Regions from separate parts of the Homo sapiens genome. Here regions 1, 2, 3 and 5 are each linked to region 4. The links come from fine-mapping of genetic effects on gene expression. A gene starts in region 4. Each other region holds a variant in brackets. All regions are shown on one strand. Distances are from middle to middle. Region 1 has its middle 120 kb from the start of LINC00299. Region 2 has its middle 85 kb from the start of LINC00299. Region 3 overlaps LINC00299 (long intergenic non-protein coding RNA 299). Region 4 holds the start of ID2 (inhibitor of DNA binding 2). Region 5 has its middle 110 kb from the start of LINC00299.

What was found.
Region 1: its variant is fine-mapped to the expression of ID2 in adrenal gland (GTEx, PIP 0.94).
Region 2: its variant is fine-mapped to the expression of ID2 in whole blood (TOPMed, PIP above 0.99).
Region 3: its variant is fine-mapped to the expression of ID2 in whole blood (INTERVAL, PIP above 0.99).
Region 5: its variant is fine-mapped to the expression of ID2 in whole blood (TOPMed, PIP above 0.99).

Annotation. Positions count from the first base shown.
Region 1 is chr2:8,444,527-8,448,655 of GRCh38, reverse strand. No RefSeq gene overlaps it. Among named protein-coding and RNA genes, the nearest start is that of LINC00299, 120 kb to the right of the region's middle. RefSeq lists an enhancer at 357-1,556. The variant G/T (reference allele first, on the strand shown) is at 1,734.
Region 2 is chr2:8,411,793-8,415,921 of GRCh38, reverse strand. No RefSeq gene overlaps it. Among named protein-coding and RNA genes, the nearest start is that of LINC00299, 85 kb to the right of the region's middle. The variant CA/A (reference allele first, on the strand shown) is at 1,891.
Region 3 is chr2:8,302,695-8,306,792 of GRCh38, reverse strand. All of the region lies in intron 2 of LINC00299 (long intergenic non-protein coding RNA 299), which reads left to right. Among named protein-coding and RNA genes, the nearest start is that of LINC00299, 24 kb to the left of the region's middle. RefSeq lists an enhancer at 2,696-2,915. The variant T/A (reference allele first, on the strand shown) is at 1,763.
Region 4 is chr2:8,680,133-8,684,216 of GRCh38, reverse strand. ID2 (inhibitor of DNA binding 2) reads right to left here and starts at 2,161. Exons shown (of 3, transcript NM_002166.5): 1 at 1,704-2,161; 2 at 1,311-1,374; 3 at 1-532. The coding sequence starts at 2,051. The coding sequence ends at 1,318. ID2-AS1 (ID2 antisense RNA 1) reads left to right here and starts at 2,354. Exons shown (of 4, transcript NR_110154.1): 1 at 2,354-2,390. RefSeq lists enhancers at 1,922-1,971, 2,459-2,962.
Region 5 is chr2:8,432,021-8,436,149 of GRCh38, reverse strand. No RefSeq gene overlaps it. Among named protein-coding and RNA genes, the nearest start is that of LINC00299, 110 kb to the right of the region's middle. The variant C/G (reference allele first, on the strand shown) is at 2,485.

The sequences.
Region 1 (4,129 bases), 240 kb after region 4:
ATGGTAGCCTCTTCCCCAAACTCCAAGTGTGTTTTCATTCCATGGCTGTTTGCTTGGTCTGGAACTGTTACCGGAAAGGGGTCCTGATCTAGACCCCAAGAGAGGGTTCTTGGATCCTATGCAAGAAATAATTTGGGGCAAGTCCACAGAGTAAAGTGAAAGCAGTTTATCAGAGAAGCAAAGAAATAAAAGAATGGAGTACCCTAGACAGAGTAGCCCTGAGGGCTGCTGGTTGGCGATTTTAATAGTTATTTCTTGATCATATGGGAAACAATGGATTGTTGGTGAGTTTTCCTGGAAAGTGGTGGGGATTTCCTGAAACTGAGGGTTCCTCTTCCCTTTGGACCATGTAGGGTAACTTCCAGACATTGCCATGGCATTTGTAAATGGTCATGGCACTGGTGGGAGTGTCTTTTAGCATGCGATGCTTTATAATGGCATATAATGAGCATTGAGGATGACTGTCTTGGTTTTGGTGGGTTTCGGCCAGCTTCTTTACCACATCCTGTTTTATCAGTGGGGTCTTTGTGACTTGTGTCTTGTGCCACCCTTCTGTCTCATCCTGTGACTTAGAATGCCTAACCTTCTGGGAATGCAGCCCAGCAGGTCTCAGCCTCACTTTACCCAGCCTGTATTCAAGATGGAGTCACTCTGGTTCAGACGCTTCTGACAGAACTCACTTGAACTCACCTTCTGGGACCTGATTTTGCTATTTCCTTCCTAGGAAGCTTTCTCAGATACCCCCAGGAGACTAACTGCTGCTTTCAGAGCTGTTTGCTTGTCTTCTAACGCTTATGGGAGCACAAGTGACTCATATTCATATGTGTATTCATTCAACAAATATTTACTGCCATCCTACCATGTGCCAGGCACTATGACACATATCTGGGATAAAAGGAGAGAACCAAGATCTAGTCCTTGGAGATGCCCAGATGACTGTGCCTTGAGTCTAATTCCAATTACATTGTGAGGCTGTGGGGACCCCTGGGCTCTGGGGGTCCTTCCCTGCAGGATCCAGTGGGGACAGCACTCCATTCTGGATGCTCTGGTTCTTCATCAGTAGAGTGATGAGGTTGGAGTAGATGGTACTTAAAGTGTCTTCCGGTTCTGAAATTCTGTGAACTGCGGTCACCTAAGGGAGGAATTAAAAAAAAAAATTATCTCTTAATTAGTAAAGTAAAATACTTTCTTTGTAGAAAGTTTTACATACAGAGAATCCAAAAGAAAAGAAAATCAGCATAATTCTACCACTCAGGAATAATCCCCATTAACCTTTTACTTTGATAATTTGTCTTTTATTTTGCATGTATTACTTGAACGAGCTCAAGAACAGCTACTTTTTTGTTTCCTGACTTGAATTCCCACAGGGATATTTCTTTCCCTCAGTCCATCTTCCCCTTCAACATGATTGTTATGGTTTAATATTACTGCTAGCCTTATTATAATCACTATTATCATTAAGTGGCATTTATCAAATATTGACAACAGACCAGGCACTATGTGGAGTGTTTTGTGTTCCTGAGACCTTTTAATTCCCCAGTGATCAGGTGAGCTAGGTGCTGTTGTTCCCATTTGACAGAGGAGGAATTTGAGCCTGACAGTGCTTAAGCAATTGGCTAAAGGTCATACCTTTGTAAGTGTCAGAGGTGTTTGAACCAGAGCAACTCCATCTTGAATAGGAGCTGGGTAAAATGTGGCTGAGACATACTGGGCTGCATTCCCAGAAGGTTAAG[G/T]CATTCTAAGTCACAGGATGAGATAGGAATTTGGCACAAGATACAGGTCACAAAGACCTTGCTGATAAAACAAGTTGCAGTAAAGAAGCTGGCCAAAACGCACCAAAACCAAGATGGTGATGAGAGTGATCTCTGGTCGTCCTCACTGCTACACTCCCACCAGCGCCATGACAGTTTACAAATGCCGTGGCAATGTCAGGAAGTTACCCTATCTGGTCCAAAAAGGGGAGGCATGAATAATCCACCCCTTGTTTAGCATATCATCAAGAAATAACCATAAAAATGGGCAACCAGCAGCCCTCGGGCTGCTCTGCCTATGGAGTTCCCTTACATATCCCACCCTTCTTTTATTCCTTTACTTTTTAAATAAACTTGCGTTTGCTTTACTTTATGGACTCGCCTCAAATTTTTTCTTACACGAGATCCCCCTCTCTTGGGGTCTGGATTGGGACCCCTTTCTGGCAACAGTTTTCCAGGCCATGGAGCCCAGATATCCTGAGTGGATGCACATCCTTCCCGTGTCTGAGCTCTCAGGCATCAGACCAGCCCCCTATGGCTGACCCTTTAGATTGTTCCCAGTGTCCCAGCATTATAAAAAATACTCTAATTGAAATCATTGCAGCTAGAAATTTGCACATGATCCATTCTTATTTTCTTTTTCTTTTTTTTTTTGAGACAGAGTTTTGCTCTTGTTGTCCAGGCTGGAGTGCAATGGCACGATCTCAGCTCACTGCAACTTCCACCTCCCGGTTTCAAGCAATTCTCCTGCCTCAGCCTCCTGAATAGCTGGGATTACAGGCATGTACCACCATGCCTGGCTAATTTTGTATTTTTAGTAGAGACAGGGTTTCTCCTTGTTGGTCAGGCTGGTCTCGAACTCCCGACCTCAGGTGATCAGCCCACCTCGGCCTCCCAAAGTGCTGGGATTACAGTAGTGAGCCACCGAGCCAGGCCGATCCATTATTTTCTTTAGATAAATCCTTAGTGGTAGAATTGCAAAGAGAAAGGTTGTGTTAACTTTTGAATATATGCTGCCAAACTCCTCCTTACCCAACAAGCAGAGGTTGTAACAATTTAGTGCCTCCAAAACCAGCAATGAGCAGCCAAGGGGAACTGATACAATGCTGAGGAAGAGAAGAAAAGATCAGATGCAGTGAAAGGAGACAGGGAGGCGGGGCGAGGAGGAGCCATCCCCAGTAGCAGCCCCCTGGCTGTTGTTCAGCACCAGGGATCCTTGATTTGCAGCAGGCTAAAGGGACATTACAGGTCATGGCTTTTACCCAGCTCTGTCATCTAAAGTTATTGACATTAAATAAATGCTCACTTTTCATTTGCTTCAAATTAAAAAAAAAATACATGCCTTTATTGTCTTTCTCTGCTAAGCCAAACCTGAGGCTTGTGCCAGCTCTTTCCATGTGGAAATGTTAGATGAAATTCCAGTGCCATCAAATGAGACCTTTATTCCTCCACCTGCACATTAGGACTCGAATAAACACGTTATCAGCTCGTGAAAATGATGGCAAACAGGTGACTGAAGGATTTGATAAGTCAGCAGCAAAGATTAACAGTTCTTTTCAGAGAAAGCTGTGAGAGGTTCCCCTATTTAAAACAATTGTGGCATGTGAATTTGCAGCACTTAAATCATTATCGGCAATTAGTCCTTGTCAAAAAGGTTGCAGCTGGCTTCAATTACAGGTAAGAATTTTATAATTTAAACTTAGTAGTATGTCTGATAAGTAGGACTTGGAGGAACACCCTCAGGGAGATTTGCAATTTGAGAAAAACTTAAAGACATTTCATAATTCAAAAATTCATTATTTTCAGCAATGCTTTGTTATTGACATCTATTAAGCTTCTAGAAAAAATTTCCATAAACTTCATGCTTCAGCTGTTTTCTTCCCTAACAGAAAAATTACTGATGATTAAAAATTGCTTTTTAAATTATAAAAACACTACATGCACACTATTAAAAAAAATCCAAGCAGCACAGAAGGATACAAAATAAGTCTCTTTCTAGACATCTCCCCATTCTTGGACACCCATGCCCCAAAGATAAGTACTTTTGCTTTCAATTGTTTTAGACATTATCATCATAACTTCATCTCAAATTATTTTTACCTTATTCTTGATCAATCAGCTTTGGAAAGTGTATATTAACTCCTCACTAGGAAAGATAAAGAGTGTAGGGCCCTTCCGTACTCTACCATCTCTCTTTCATATGTTGATTCTTGCTGATTATATTTATTGTGAAATCTATCTGTAAACTTTAAGTAATATGCTTCTCTATTTCTTGACCCTTCAGCTTTAGATCTGCACCATTCTAATAGTGGACATTATTGTTATTACCTATTACGACGGGTATCTCATTGTTTTAATTTGGAATTCCCTAGTGACGC
Region 2 (4,129 bases), 270 kb after region 4:
TATTGGGTACTAAATGAAGCACTGTAAAGTTAACGTTTATTAGACATAGGACCCTTTTCATTTCAAATGGAGTAAGATGACACTCATTTGGGAGAATTTAGGGAAACACCAGTCTGAATAGTAGAGGAATTGAATGAGCTACAGTAACAAAACTAAGATAGAAATGTCGCCTATTAGGAGTCCTTAGGGAGCTACAATTACGAATATTTAACGATGACTTATTTCCTGTAACAATTATTTGTGAGTGAGTGCTTTGGATGTGTTGAAACAATGTATTCTCTGATGCATTTTGATACTTCCCCCTCCACATACTGTTTATACACTTAAATTGCTGTGTGAAAGAAGAAAAGGATTGCTGGGTGTAAAGTTAAACTTCAGCCTAGTGTGAACGATTCCAAATCAGCCGATTCCAAGTTAATGAAATTTTACCTTAGTTCACACGAACAGGTTTAGTCTGCCAAAACGTGAACTATGCTTGGGGAAAGGGAAGTGGTGCAGGCAGTGTTTCGGGGTGAATAGACTTTGTGAGGACAGTCAACAGAAAGCAGAATTCCAGGAGCTTCCATTTTCTTTGTGGGTCACACACCCAGAACACACAGAATACACAGTTTTTAACACAATGTTAAAAATTGGTGGGCTTGTCTGGCACTGAGTGCTCAGCAACCTGCTCTTTGTGCATCGTCTCCATCTGAGATGAGCCAAGTCACAGCTTGTCTCCAGAGGATGAAGGACTTGCTCAAGACCAGTAGGTGTGCTGAGCCCAGAGGGCCAACTGTTCCCACCCAGTGCCGTGTGCCTGTGTGGCTGCCTCGCAGCTAGGCTGCGTCAACTTGCAACTTGGCCTCTGTGCTGGGAGGCAGCCACTCCTTCTTCCCTCTCTGAGGATTTTGACAATGTCTTCCTCATGACCCCTCATTATGTTCCAGCACCAGGAGCATCACTGCGAGGTGGCTGCACAGAAGTGGAGATCTGAGGTGGGCGGGAAGCCCCCTTTCTCCTTTAGGTTTGCATTTGAGGATGAGTCAAGAGGACTTAGGTCTATTTTTATTTTTTTGAGGCAGGGTCTCCCCCTGTCACCCAGGCTGGAGTGCAGTGATGTGATCATGGCTTAATGTAGCCTGGACCTCCTGGGCTCAATTGATCCTCCCACCTCAGCCTCCTGAGTAGCTGGGTAGCCAGGCAGGTGCATGCCACCATGCCTGGCTACTTTCGAATTTTTTGTAGAGATGGGCTTTCACCATGTCACCCAGGCTGGTCTTGAACTCCTGAGCTCAAGAGATCCACACACTCAGCTTTCCAAAGTGTTGGAATTACAGACATGAACCACCACGCCTGGCCATATTTATTAATTTTTAAAATGAAGGATCCAGGAGTAAAATTTTGGCCACTGAACAGAAGAACCTGCTGCAAGACAACACTCTTGATTTTTGTTGTTTGTCTGTTTGTTCGCACTATCTGCTGGGCTTTTTTTTTTTTTTTTTTAACTGTAGTTATCCTGACTTCAGATTTTTCCAGGTGATTTTTTTGGGGTGCAGACTTGAAGAAGGCTTGCCTCAAATCACCTGTCCCTGAAGTAGCCGGCAAGGGCAGTGCTGTGGGCTCAGCCAGTTCTGAAGTCTGAGGAACCTGGGCATTTCCAGTGCCCAGGTAATATATCTGTTTCTCACTTTTTCAAAATCACCTGATTGGAATATATATATATATATATTCATCATATATATAATGCAGAAACACTTAGACATGTGAAGCAAAGCTTCACTTTTATGGGCTTATTTTTAAAGGGTACATGCTGTTGTGTGCCAGATCATAGTTACCTTTGAATGATCGGGTTGTATCTACAAATAGCTTGCACACCTCTTGCTAAATGTTTTCCTGTTGGCAGAAGCCCGC[CA/A]GTGTGTTGAAAGACTTTCACAAGAGCTCTGGCCCATCTCTCTCACGGTCCTTCTGTATTTTATTGGCTGCTTTTGCTGATAAGAAATGCCTATGTGATTTGGACTGTAACTGCATCAGGAAAAAGTCAAAGTACTAAGTCCAGAGAGAGCCTCTTTATTTATTTTTTTAAAAGTATGTGTTTGCCTCTACAACCCAGATATTCTTTCTCCTCACCTCAGCAATTTGTTCACAGAGTACGTTACTCAGGGTGAGGTGGCCAGACTCACTTATTTGCCTGGGTAGCGCTGGTTTGCAACGAATTGTCCAGGTGTTGTAAGTAGTAACTTCTCCTTCTGCTCTCAAAAATGACCTTGTGTGGACAATACAGGATATGACCATCCTACTTAGAGTCCCCTTCCCCCACCCCTGACAGTTTCTGCACATTGCATTGACACCACATTTTTTGAAGAGGCACATTTACCTCTGGCTGGTCCTGTGTGTGAAAACAATTCTGTTCATTTCAAAGCTGTCCATGGTATAGTGGCCATGGTTTTTATCCTTGGCTTCTTTAGAAAAAACCCAAATGTACCTGGTTCCTCTTGACCAGTTTTCAACTGCAAACTGAGAGGGGGGAGGCATGCTTCCCTGAATTCTCATTCCCTTTGGTGCTGAGGCAAGGGGAGTACAAATGGTCTTTAAAGAAACAGTTTAGGCTGGATGCGGGGGCTCACACCTATAATTCCAGTATTTTGGGAGGCTGAGGCGGGTGGATCGCTTGAAGCCAGGAGTTCGAGACCAACCTGGGCAACATGGTGAAACTCTGTCTCTACTAATAATACAAAAATTAGCTGAGTGTGGTGGTGTGCCTGTAGTCCCAGCTACTTGGGAGGCTGAGGCATGAGAATTGCTTGAACCCGGGAGGCAGATTGCAGTGAGCTGAGATGGCACCACTGCACTGCACCCTGGGTGACAGAGAGAGACTGTGTCTCCAAAACAAAACAAAACAAAAAGAAAAGAAAAGAAAATTGAGAAGTTTGAAAACGCCTTGATGTTCGGGTGTGCTGGGGCAGCCTTCTCCAGCCTGCCTCTCAAGGGGCTCTGTGATGTGCTCTCCCTCCACAAGGAGCATTGGTGTGGTGCCATGCAGTTATTTGGGAGCCTGTTGTCCTATCCTGCCGTCTGTTGCAGTTTTACAATGTCATTTCCCCAGATTCCTTCAGGAATGTTTCCTCACAAAGGCCTGCTTTTGCAATGCCCCAGGGAGCGATTCTGTCTCATTTTCTTGCTCTTTTTCTTGCTTAGCACTTAATGAACTTTTCTTGGCTGTTTCAACTGTCAGCATTTAAAGTCTGCTGGTGAATGTTGGTTGGCTTTCTCTGTGCTAAACTGGACCATTCAGTGGCGATTATAGTTCTTCAACATCATGAGAAATTTGAGGGAAAGGCGAACCTTCCAAAAGTCTCTCAATGCAGCAGGAAGTGCGTCTGGCAGAAAAAGGAAGGGGAAAAAAAGCCCTCAAGGTCCATTCTCTTCTCATAAGACAGAATGGGGCATGTACTGGAAAGCCCTATGGAAATAAAGCCAAAAGGAAAAAGACAGATGCCACACTGATGTCTTCGCTTGTGTTGTTTGTATGACACAATTGGCATGTGGCCCATTCCTTCGCAGGTTAATAAATCATTAACAGAACGTGGTGTTAGACCGGGCAGTGCTCAGAGACTCCTAGACAAATATGACGTCATTCCTGACTTTAGGAAACTCTGAGATTAGTGGGAAGACCAGCAATAAGCTGATGCCGAGGGAATAACTTCCCAAGTGGGGAGACAGATCTGAAGCACCGTGAAGGCACCGAGGGCCACCATCTCCACCTGGGAAGGGCCTGGGAAGCAGACAATCCAGCAGGGAGCCAGCTAGCCTGGGTATGCAGCAGGCACAGGCCTGTCTTCAAGGGTGCCACGTTGAGGGAATTGGAAATATTAATAGTTCAGAATGGCCAGAGGAATGGTTCTTTCAGGGCACCAAGTGGCAGGTTCATTCATTCATCCATTCTAGTTATTCATGGAGAACCCATCATGCTTTACTAAATGTGAGGCCGACATTTATGGAGGCCTGGCTAGAAAAGCAGGAGAGACCGGGAGGGCCTCAGGTGCCGACCGCAGCACAGGCCTTATCTGGAAAGCCATGGAGGGCCAGGGTGGCTCTCACCAGGACATGGACATGATCAGACGTGTGTGTCGGCCATCGTGTGCGAGACATT
Region 3 (4,098 bases), 380 kb after region 4:
AATGGATTGAATGTGGGGTTATCCAACCATGGTGTGGTGCCTTGCTGCCTCTGACACGGGGCTGATGAGATCTGAGTGCTTGGCACTATCTTACAGGAATGTCAAAATCAGATTTGGTCGGTAGCCAGCTTTCTACCTTCTCTGGAACATGGAGAGAACATCTGGGAAAAAGCTCAACTTATTACCCACAGCCCCAGACATTCCCATACCACCTCATCTCTCAGAACCTGACTCCACCCTGCTAACTGGCCTTGTGTACCGCTTCCATAGCTGACCATGGTCACGAACCTGCTTTAACATCTTATCTTTGTCTTAGAGGCGTTATACAGAATCATGGCTCAATTTTTCAAAGCTCACAACAAAACCACAATATCTATTTCTAAATTAAAAATTCAGATTTCCAGACTTCCCTAGCTACTGTATCTTCTCCCTCTCTTTTGGAGAAATTGTCTTTCAACATCTCCTCCAGAGTTGAGAGTTTTAAACCCATCCTCCGGGACAGGCTTCAGGGGTTCTCTGAATCCTCTTTCACATTCTGTGTAAACTTCTCTGTGTTTATGAGCCTTTGTCTATATTTCTGGAGGGAAGGCCCACCTGTTTATCAGATACTCATAGTGACCCTAAGGCCTCTCATGGGTTAAAAAATCTGTTACAGAGATTTCCCATGATTTTGAAGGCAGAAAGGATCTGAGATAGTGCTTAATTGAAACTCTCATTTCACATACAGGGAAACTGAGGCCCATAGAGATATAATTCTTTTTCTCAGACCAGTGCAACAAGGTAGTGACATCATAGCATGGGAGTCCAGAAGCAAAAATTTGATATTTTTTAAACTTGTAAATACCTTCCATTGTTCCTCATCTCACCTAAGATTGGATTCTGGGAAGCCTGGTAATTTGTGCACAGGGAGTAAGGAGGTTAGATGACTGTCTTTTGGAAGAACTGTTTTTCTCCTTTGCTTTTTTGGTAATTTACTCTGAAAGCTGGTAGGTATTTTATTTCCAGACTTGTTCAGAAAATCCTGTTCACGCTGTTAAAGTCTTTGCCCATGCAAATACCCAGTGCTGTTCTTGGCCAGCAGGAACCGTCACACTGGGACGTTGCTCCATTGTGCGTGTGTGCACGTTTCCAGGCATGTGCGCAAGTGTGCACTTGGTAATGCAATTGCAAAGCAAACTGCAAATGCCCATAATAGGAATCAAGAGAAAAGTCTCAAGTTAGACTTTTGTTTAACACTTGGCTTCCTAGAAGTTTGTAAAGAAGGTGTCTGTTTAGGGAAAGCCTTATTAAGCCTGGATGGTTGCCCTTAGCAAATGAAAGTGTTGACTAAACCTTGCTCTCTGTTGTGAAATGTAAGTCTAGTGAAATTCAAACACATTGTAAATTTACTAATCAGCTGTAATCAAAGTAGAGGGATATAAATACTCCCAGAGGGTGGCTCCCTGTGAGGACAACTGATGAGGTGACTTGGGAGGCCGTGGGTGGCTCTTAGGAGAGTTAAGGATGTCCATGGCCATCCCTGCTCCAGCATGAGCCTGTGTTTGTATGAAAGCACAGACTCCAAAACATCCTAGAAGATAGCTGAGAGAACACCTAGAATGAAACTTGTATTTTACCAGAAAACTAAGCCAAGGTCCCTAGAGAAATGGCTTTGCTTAGGCTTCACACTGTGGCTCAATGGCAGGTCAGAGACGAGGGCCCCACACCTCGGTGTCTAGCCAGGGATCTGGCCCTAGCACCGTGTTGCTGAGTCATGTCGGGC[T/A]GCCTAGGGGATGTCGCAGAAGGAGCTCCTGGAGGACACATGCGTTCATCATCTGCTCAAAACTGCACAGCAGGTGAATGGTGACATTGACACATCAGAAAAATAACAGACTGCTTGGAGGGCGACGTGCTAAGCACTTAACGGGAATTATCTTAGTAAGTCTTTACGCCACTGTGATGAAGTAGGTAGCGTTCTCATAATTGCCATTTTACAGATGAGGACACTGAGGTTCTGGGAGGTTAAGAAACTTGCCCAAATGATGTAGTAGGTGGCCAAGCTGGAATTCCAAAGCAAGGATTTGTAAAGATTATGCTAATCAAAACTCCCACTGCCCTTGTCTGTTTTTGTTCTTCCCCTAAAGCATACCTACGTTTTCTTGTCTCAGGGAGCATGATGTGTGAAGGACTTTGGTTCTCATTGGCCAGAGACACCGAGTCCATCTCAGTCTGAAGTCCTGGGATCTGAGATTCCCTGAGTGTGTGGATTCCCTGCTAGGCAGGATGCAGTTTGACTGACGAGTTCCTTTTCTTTTATTTTCTTCTATTTAGCGACTTGCTTTTCCTGATATCCTCTTTTAGGAGGCTGTTAGGCCCCTGGGCCAGAGGCCTTTTATAGCACCCAAAAAATTGCCTTGTAGCAATCTGACAATTTTTTATAATAATTTGGGTCTTATTTCTAAATACAGTAACAATTTGGGGTCTTTTGTGTTATTTTTGTGTTTTGGCTCACCATCATTCAGTTTGGATTTTGTTGTGTGAAGTTCCCCAACTCCTGGCCTATTTCCATCCACCCTTTTATTCATGGGATAAATAGTAACTGTGTACCTACCCCCAGAACCTCCTATGACAAGGCACCCTAGGGCTCAGAGTAAGTTGTCTTCCCCCCCCCCTTTTTTTGACTATTGATAACACAAATAAAGCTGCAATAACTATCTTGGTTGAGACACAGCTTTCTAAATGCTTGTCGATAGCTTGCTGGTGTACGACCTTAGTTTTTACCGCGTCCCTGCCTTGACCACCCATCCTGCCCTCAAGAGGACACAGGGCTCCTCTCTGGGAAGATCCAGGGTTGGCAGAAAGGAAAGATTTCCTTCTTGACTTGTGATATGGCCTCTGTGCCAGGCCCTGTGCTAGGCCCTGGGAATGGAGTGGGGAGCGAGGCTCAGCCCTGTCCTCTGGACAGCCTGGACTGGCTCTCTGCATCTTACATTTGATTTTTAACAACAGTAGGAGAGGATGAACGCTGGAGAGGAACAGAAACCAGAGATCTGGGCTTGCAGCCCTCCCTGTTAACCTCGACACGGCCCCCTGTGTCCTCTTGGTTTCCTGTCCCTCACCACAAGAAGCAGTGTTCAAATCGGTTTCTAGATGGCTCCGATGTGGCCACGTTTGGGTGGGTCTGGTGCATGTTGGCTCAGCTGGGAACATGCCAGTGTTTGGGGGTTGTTGTTGTGCAAGCCTGAGGGCCGGCTCACTGCACGAGGTCAGGGTGTCCTGGTGGGCCTTGTTCTGCTTTGTGATGACAGCAGCCCTCCAAGACGGTCAAGCTTGACCATATAAATTACCGTATAAATAACCATGATGGGTATGAATGACTCACTTAATGATTTCATTTCTGTATTTCACACCTTTTGGTGCTACCATGCTATGCATTGAGGGTCCAGGATGTGTAAGGCACTAGCACAGCACCTGAGATATTTTTGAGTGGTGGGGCAGAGAATGTGGTACAAAAAGATGAATGAGGCTGGATGCAGTGGCTCACGCCTGTAATCACAGTGCTTTGGGAGGCTGAGTGGGGAGTATTGCTTGAGGCCAGGAGTTTGAGACAGCACTGAGGGTCCAGGATGTGTAAGGCACTAGTACAGCACCTGAGATATTTCTGAGTGGTGGGACAGAGAATATGGTACAAAAAGATGAATGAGACTGGATGCAGTGGCTCACGCCTGTAATCACAGTGCTTTGGGAGGCTGAGGGGGGAGGATCGCTTGAGGCCAGGAGTTTGAGACCAGCCTGGTCAACACAGCAAGATTCTGTTTCTTACATTAAAAACAGCAACAACAACAACAACAACAACAACAACAAACAACCACCCATGAACAAGATCTAAGGAGTGCAGGGAAGGCAGTGGGTGCCTCTCAGCACACAGTGAGGCTGGTGCGCTGAGAGGTTTCCCCTCATTGGGATTTCTTTGTTCTCTTTGCTATTCCTCCCATTCAAGCAACCCTTTCTCTGCTCTTCCCTAGGTAAGGGGTGTGAGAGCAGAAAGACAAGCAGTCCTCTTTCGGCTGCAGTGACCATTGGGGTGCTCTGCCCAGGTCTCCCCGCTAGCTGCAGTGA
Region 4 (4,084 bases):
TGCAGAAATAGACATCTCTGCCACTATACAAGAAAACTCTAATTAAAGAGTTCACAAGGTTTCACTCAAATAGATATATTTATATATAAATATATACACAGCATTCAGTAGGCTTGTGTCAAAAAGGTAATTTCTGACCAAAAGACTTCATTTAAGTGACTGAATACTGGATCCTTCTGGTATTCACGCTCCACCTTTGAAAAAAGGCAAAGTCTGCTTAGATTGGGCAATTCCTTGTGATTTTAACGTTTTCGCTCCCCATGGTGGGAATAGTATATAAAGAAAACCTTCCAACTGCAGAAAGGGCATTTAAAAGTCTTTTTCATAAATAACGAATATCACAGTCCAAGTAAGAGAACACCCTGGGAAGATGATCATTCTTAGTTTTCCTTCCATTTTTTTTTTCTTTTTAAAAAGGTCCATTCAACTTGTCCTCCTTGTGAAATGGTTGAAAAATAAGTTCAGCACTTAAAAGATTCCGTGAATTTGTTGTTGTTGTTGTTGTGCAAAGAATAAAAGAAATCATGAACACCTGCGAAAGAGTGGGGGAGAAAGGCATGTTTAAGAGAATGTAACCTAAGGGCAGAGGCGGGCGACTGGCGCCGGGAGGAAGCCACAGTTTGAACATTTAACCAAACACTCAAAGATTGGGCAAACCCTGGCGTCCAGATGCAACACACACACTCGCCTCGACAGCGCAAATTAAACATTAAAATAGCAGAGACTCAAGGGAAAAACTTCCCAACCCAATCTCCTATTTGGATCTCCAACAGCAGTGCTACAGGCGCCAGTCTGCTTCTCGTAACAATTATTTGATTGAAAACAGCCCTTTAGTTAACAGATAGGGAAGTCTGGGATCCCACATCACAGGGTTGAAGGCACAGGGTAGCAATCCTCAACTAGCCCAGAGAATCCCAGAGGACTATAGTTTTAGGGAAGGAGGATCACTATGGAATTTGTGGCGGTAAGATTAATTACAGTGGAGGTTAGTACCTCATAGTACCAGAGGACTCGTAGGAAGATCCAGGGCATTACATTTGCTACAAAGCCAATACACACGTTCCTCGGCCGCCTTCGTAGTAAGTTATTGGCATCATTTCCTTTTAAAGGAAAATGTTCTGTGATCTCGAGCACCCAAAGCTACAAGCTCCTTCATGTCTAGTGAGACAATGTAGTACGGGTAACACCGCGAAGTAAGCATGCATTTACCAAATCAGACATTTTATAGATACACAAGCAAAAACACATGCGCGCGCGCGCACACACACCGAGGGGCAGTTTACCCACGGGTGGCACAAGCAAACACTCACCGCTTATTCAGCCACACAGTGCTTTGCTGTCATTTGACATTAACTCAGAAGGGAATTCAGAAGCCTGGAAAGAAAGAGGATAAAGAGTACGAGGTTAAGACAATGTTAAGTAGAAAGGGTTTTTTTTTTTTTTTTTTTTTTTTTGTAGTCCACAGACCAGCAAGTTCCATTAAACACGTTTATGGTAACAATTCAGATTTAAAGACAGACGCATTAACATGTCAGAACTTACTAGCAATTTCACGCACAGCTCAATCTACAGCAGATTCTGAAGAAAATAAAGTTAAATAGCTCATACGAAAGTCACCGTCTGGGCTACGGATCTCCTAGTGACAGCCCAGACGACCGCGGGAGTGTGCGGCGGCGGGGCGGGGACCCCGGAGCAGGTCTTACCTGCAAGGACAGGATGCTGATATCCGTGTTGAGGGTGGTCAGCGGCGTCCTGGACGCCTGGTTCTGCCCGGGTCTCTGGTGATGCAGGCTGACAATAGTGGGATGCGAGTCCAGGGCGATCTGCAGGTCCAAGATGTAGTCGATGACGTGCTGCAGGATTTCCATCTTGCTCACCTTCTTGTTCTGGGGGATGCTGGGCACCAGCTCCTTGAGCTTGGAGTAGCAGTCGTTCATGTTGTATAGCAGGCTCATCGGGTCGTCCACAGGGGTTTTGCTCCGGGAGATGCCCAGGCTGTGGTCCGACAGGCTGTTTTTCCTAACGGACCTCACGGGACTGAAGGCTTTCATGCTGACCGCGAGGGAAGGCGAGACCGGGAGGGAGCTGGCTGCCCTGAAGCTCAGGCCGCCGCTGCCGCCTGCTGAGCTAGCTGCGCTTGGCACCGGGCTCGGCTCAGAATGAAGCCCGAGCCCGGCGGGGCGGCTTTTATCCGCACTCGCCGGGGCCACACGCTGGAGCTTCCCTTCGTCCCCATTGGCGGAAGGTGGCACGTCTATCAAGACGAGCGGGCGCTTCCATTGGTGGGCGCGGGCGCGGGGCGTGGGCTTGGTTCTTCCGCGTTCGCAGCCAATCCCCGCGGGGTGGGCGGGGCGCGAGCCCAGCTGGGGTGGTAAATAGAGTACAGTACAGTAAGTGCGGGGCTGGCGGGGGGCGGGGGGCGGGGAGCGGCGGGCGGGGGGCGGGGAGGAGGGAGGCGGGAGGAGGGAGAGGAGGAGGGAGGAGGAAGAGAAGGGAAGATGGGGGAGGGGAAGGGGGAGGGGAAGGGGGAGGGGAAGGAGGAGGGAGAAGGGGGCAGACCCTGGGCGCCTAAATATGCATTCTTAATTCTAATTCCAAGCGCGCGGCGGGACCCTTGCCCTGGGGGTGTTCCCAGACCAAGCCCTACACACCTTAGAGCTGTCGGCAGCTCTAAAATCACAGCTACACGGGCGAGTTCAGCACCGCAGGGGGGAAGCCACAGTTCACTGCAACCCATCGGAGGGAGAGCGTGAGGAAAGATAGAAAGCATTTCAGAAGAAAGTGAAAACGCAAATTAGGTTGTCACTGAAGAGTCACGTTTGTAGAGTGAGTTCGTCTCTTCAGATAAGGAAAAGTTATGTTAACACAAACAAACCACCCACGCACGCATTCGACGACAGGCTTAGTGTGGGCTTTTGCAACCCGGAGCAGCGCGGGAGGCATTACTGTAAACTCAAGAAAATGAGTACTTATTGCAAACCATGCCCAACCTCACCGGTCGCTAAGGAGCTCTCACAGGCAGGGCGCTTTCAGGGTTCCTTTTCAAGAAGGAGGCAGGGCTATTATAATGATCGTATTAATCGGAAATAATTAGGAGAATTTGCATATTGAAACTACATTTACATACACTGCCCTTGAAAGGCTGCCGGTCTGTGCCCTTCCGTGTAGGTGGCAAAGTAATGTGATTAATTATGCACTAATTGTGATTTCTGGTGTCACATTCCAACACCTAGAGGAGTTCCAAAGCTTTGTGACAGATAGGTGGCCCTAGCCATTGATAGACATCTTCACACTAAGGAAAAAAAAATATTCTGTCATATGAGGTTTGGAATCTTTTCAGCACTAGTACTGAATACGGGTTCAAGGTTTTTTTTTTTTTTTTTGGCTGAAAATCTTTTAAGAACTCGTTCTTTCAGTCTAAGTTTTAAAAAGTTTGCAGCTATTTACTTAAATACCTTAATTTTCACATAATTGTAGCTTATCTAGAATTCTGTTTTGACCACAGTGTGTCAGTTTCTTGTTTTTGAAAATATTTGCTCCAGAAAACAATGAACTAGAAAACTCCAGGAAAGGCAATATTCAAATCTTATTTACTTTCTGCCTCAATCTCTACCTCCTTTGCATTTCAGAAAGCGGAAGGGGCAGGCCTAGAAGCTGAAAGAAAAGCTCGATAATGGGGAAACAGTGTTTTTTCCTTCAATTAATGATTAATTTCTCAGCTGGTGGGGCCAGCAGTCTCTGACCGTCACGTGACAGCTATGCGCCCCATGACGCCTCTCCAGGGAGGCAGAGTGGGTGGCACTGAGGTGGAGCTCACCTTCCTGAAATTCAGCCCCCTCAGTTTGGAGGAAGGAGGTAAACTGTTTCCTGTCCAGCCAGAAGTTTGCGGAGGGCCTTCCCCAGGCCAGGCAATGCTGCCTGCGACTCTGTCCCTGACAGCGTTGGATGCACCGTATCTCTTCTGATATTAAGTCTGGAAGTGATTTACTATCCGAGTCCTCCCACAGTTCGAGCCTTTTGATGTACTTTGTGTGCATGTGTTTCTGTCACATACGTGCCACAGTGGAACAGATTTTGTTTTGAC
Region 5 (4,129 bases), 250 kb after region 4:
CTCATGAAAAGGCAAATTTTTATTTCCACTGGTTTTGACTTCCATTATGTGGGGTGGTCTCTGTTTAGTTCTCTGCTCTCTTTTCAACCTCTTCTCTATGTCTGGACAGCTACGGGGTGGAGACAGTCCACTCAAGATTTCTACCAGCAAGGATTCGCCTTTATAACCAATCCTTTCATGCCAGATTTCTAAAAAAATAATAATAAAAATAATTTACAAAAAGCCTCTCTTGGGAGCAGCTGTCAGGCCACACAACTTATAATTACAGGGGGAATATCTGAAGCTTTCGCTGCACTTCCACGTGGTTCCTGGGGATTTCTTCTTGGTCATGTTGCTTTAATTAAGTGTGGTCATCCCAGCAATCTTGCATTAACATTCTTGAGAAAGTAATGAAATAAACCAGGCATGGATGGGGTTGCCTGACTCAAGTGTTTGGCCCATAGAAGGAAGGGATGATAGTTTCTGCATCTTTAAATTGCTAGGGTTTTGCATATGTGTGGGGTTCTGTTGTGAACTGGAGAAACAAAAGAACGAGTGATTAAAAGAATGGATGAGTGGATAGAGGTGTGCAGTAGACATTGTTTGCATTAACTCCTCATCATAGCTGTACAGATGCAGGTGTTTGTGTTTCTTGACCACCCCGCCCAGCACTTCCTCCATTAGGTTAGAATTTTATTAAAATCTGGACCTTCCTTCCTCCCTTCCCTTCCTCCTTTCTTTTTTGCTATCTCCTTTTCTTCTTCCTCTTCTCCTCCTCCCTCTTCTTCCTTGGATCAGGTTTTCTGTGAGCCATCAGCTTTACAGCTCCATGAAGAACTCTCTTCTCTCATTAACTATGTTTTCCACCCTTACCTTTATATAATATCCCAAAGCAGGGCCAACATATCCAGGGGCTCAATGCCTCAGGCCTGCACACTTTCAGGGACCTATGAAATGTGTTAATGCTTGTGTTTTGAATCAGAAGATTAAAAAAAGGAAACAACAGATGCTGGAGAGGATGTGGAGAAATAAGAACGCTTTTACACTGTCGGTGGGAGTATAAATAAGTTCAACCATTGTGGAAGACAGTGTGGCGATTCCTCAAGGATCTAGAACCAGAAATGCCATTTGACTCAGCTATCCCATTACTGGGTATATACCCAAAGCATTATAAATCATTCTACTATAAAGACACATGCACACGTATGTTTATTGCAGCACTGTTCACAATAGCAAAGACTTGGAATCAGCCCAAATGCCCATCAATCATAGACTGGAGAAAGAAAATGTGGCACATACACCATGGAATACTATGCAGCTATAAAAAAGGATGAGTTCGTGTCCTTTGCAGGGACATGGATGAAGCTGGAAACCATCATTCTCAGCAAACTAACACAAGAACATAAAAGCAAACATCGCATGTTCTCACTTCTAAGTGGGAGTTGAACAGTGAGAACACGTGGACACAGGGAGGGGAACATCACACACTGGAGCCTGTTGGGGGGTTGGGGGTTAGGGGAGGGATAGCATTAGGAGAAATACCTAATATAGATGACAGGTTGATGGGTGCAGCAAACCACCATGGCACGTGTATACCTATGTAACAAACCTGCACGTTCTGCACAGGTATCCCAGAACTTAAAGTATAATAAAAAAAATTTTAAAAAGGAAACGTTAAAGAAAATATCTTACTATATAGTATTAACATATTTCTCTTTATACCAAGACATAGTAAACTAATTTTTAATATTATTTTACATAGGAAGGGACTCCTGGAGGCAAAGGTGCCTAGAGTCCACCAAAGCCATAATGAGACCATGTCCTGAGGCTTCATGTATTTTGATGCAGCCAGTGGGGCTCAACTGTGGCTGGACAGTAAAGTCACCTGGGGAGCTTTTGAATAAAGCCCAGGCTCACACCATTCTTTGGGATTCTGAATGAATATGTCTGGGGTGGGGCTGGGGCACTGGTTATTTAAAGCTCCTTAGGTTATTTGAATGTGTGGTCAGGACTAGAAACTAGTGCTCTAGATGCTTCTCTGACTCCATCTTGTGCACCAGTCACCTGGGAGCTTGCTGAAATGCAGTCCCTGATTCGTTGGCCTGGGGGAAATGGCCAAGACCCTGCACTTCTGACAAGCTTCTCGCTATGGTTAAGGCAAAGCTGCTGCTTCCTGGCCCACCCTTCTGCGGCAGGGGTCTGGAGTATGGGATCTGCACGCAGCGTGCAGGCTCTGGAGCCTGAAGGAACGTAGCAGCTGCTATTTATTGACCACCCACTATTTCCTAGTCACTAACTATGCTTTGCACACCGTTTCTCATGTCACAACCACCTCGTGAGGGAGGTAGCCTTGTCTCTATTTTACAGGTGAAATAATTGAGGTCCAGAGAAGTTAAGATGGGAGCCTAAGAATCCCCGTAAATGAAGTGGTGGTGCTGGGACTCAAATGAGGCCTGAGAAACTCCAAGTCCATGATCTTCCCCAGTACCAAGCCACCCCCAACAG[C/G]TGGAGTAGTCTTCCTTCCAGAGGGCAGTACTTACAGAGGCCTTCCTTACAGAGGGCAGTACTTACAGAGAGGCCTTCCTTCCAGAGGGCAGTACTTACAGAGGCCTTCCTTCCAGAGGGCAGTACTTACAGAGGCCTTCCTTCCAGAGGGCAGTACTGCACACCTGCACCTGAGAGGTCAGGGCATTCCTGCCCATGGCTCAAAAGAAAAAAGAAGCACAGCTTAAAAAGAGTGAAAACAGGCCAGGCACGGTGGCTCACGCCTGTAATCCCTGGCCTTTGGGAGGCCGAGGTGGGAGGATCACTTGAGCTCAGGAGTTTGAAACCAGCCTGGCCAACATGATGAAACCCCATCTCTACTAAAACTACAAAAAAATTTAGCTGGGAGTGGTGGCGCATGCCTGTGATCTCAGCTACTCTGGAAGCTGAGGCAGGAAAATTGCTTGAACCTGGGAAGTGGAGGCTGCAGTGAGCCCGTATCCCGCCACTGTACTCCAGCCTGGGCGACAGAGCAAGACTCTGTCAAAAAAAAAAAAAAAAAAAAAAAAGAAGTGAAAACATAAAAGTTAAAAGTGAAAGCAAAAGTGCATAGTTATATTACTTTTGATTTCTCCTAATTCCAGCCTCTCTTGCATCCAAATGTTCGATTAATCTCCCTTACATTGCTCTAATAGCATCTTTCCCCTGCGCAAGAGGAGTCTCTATGCTGATCACATCCTGGCTAAAGTCTGACCAGTGATCAAGGACCTGCACTATCTGGCTTTACCGCCATGTAAACTCACCCACATTCACTCACTCACTCAGTGAACATTTGTTAAGTATCTACCTTGATAGAAGACTCCTCCATGTTGGAACTCTTGTGTTGTTGAAGGAGCCAGTGATGTTTGGATGAGCAATAAAGACACATAACTTATGTATTATCGTATATTCATTCCACGTGAAACTTAATTTTCTTGTCATCATTTTAGCAACATAACAAATTATATTGTTATACTTAAGATTTCCACAGAATTTGGGTTCTGGTAACAGTAAAGATCTAAAGGATTAAAATATCAAATACAATTGTATTCAAGATATACAAAATTTGAATACATTTTCATTAAAATATAAATTTAAAAATATTTTAATTCAAGACATTAAAGTTATTTCTTTTCCATGTATGTTTTCAAAAAGTTATTTTTCTTTCAAATTGTTTAACATAATTTGCTCAAAAGTATACGTTATAATTAATACATTTCAACGATTAACATCAAATTATAATAATACAGGTGAAGTTTTTAGTTACTTTTGAAAAATAAATACCTTATTACAGTTTTAATAGCAACTCCTTGCAATTCTAGTGTTCAATAGTCCTTTGGTTGCCCATGTAAAAGATTAGTGTCATGTTATATGCATATGATGTCTATATCCACCTATCTATGAATGTGACAGTAGTATGAATCATTTAATGTTGCAGAATGTTCCTCAGTCACCATCTGCTGCAGACACCATACCGATTTGTGTATATCTCTGGAACCATGAACTGGAACATGAGTAGAAGCAAGGACAGGACAGTTGGCACCTCTAGGGATCTACGGTAGAGCTGCCCTCTGAGAGGGAGGATTGGAGAGAGGCATCCCTCTGTCTTTCCTCTCATCTAATTGTT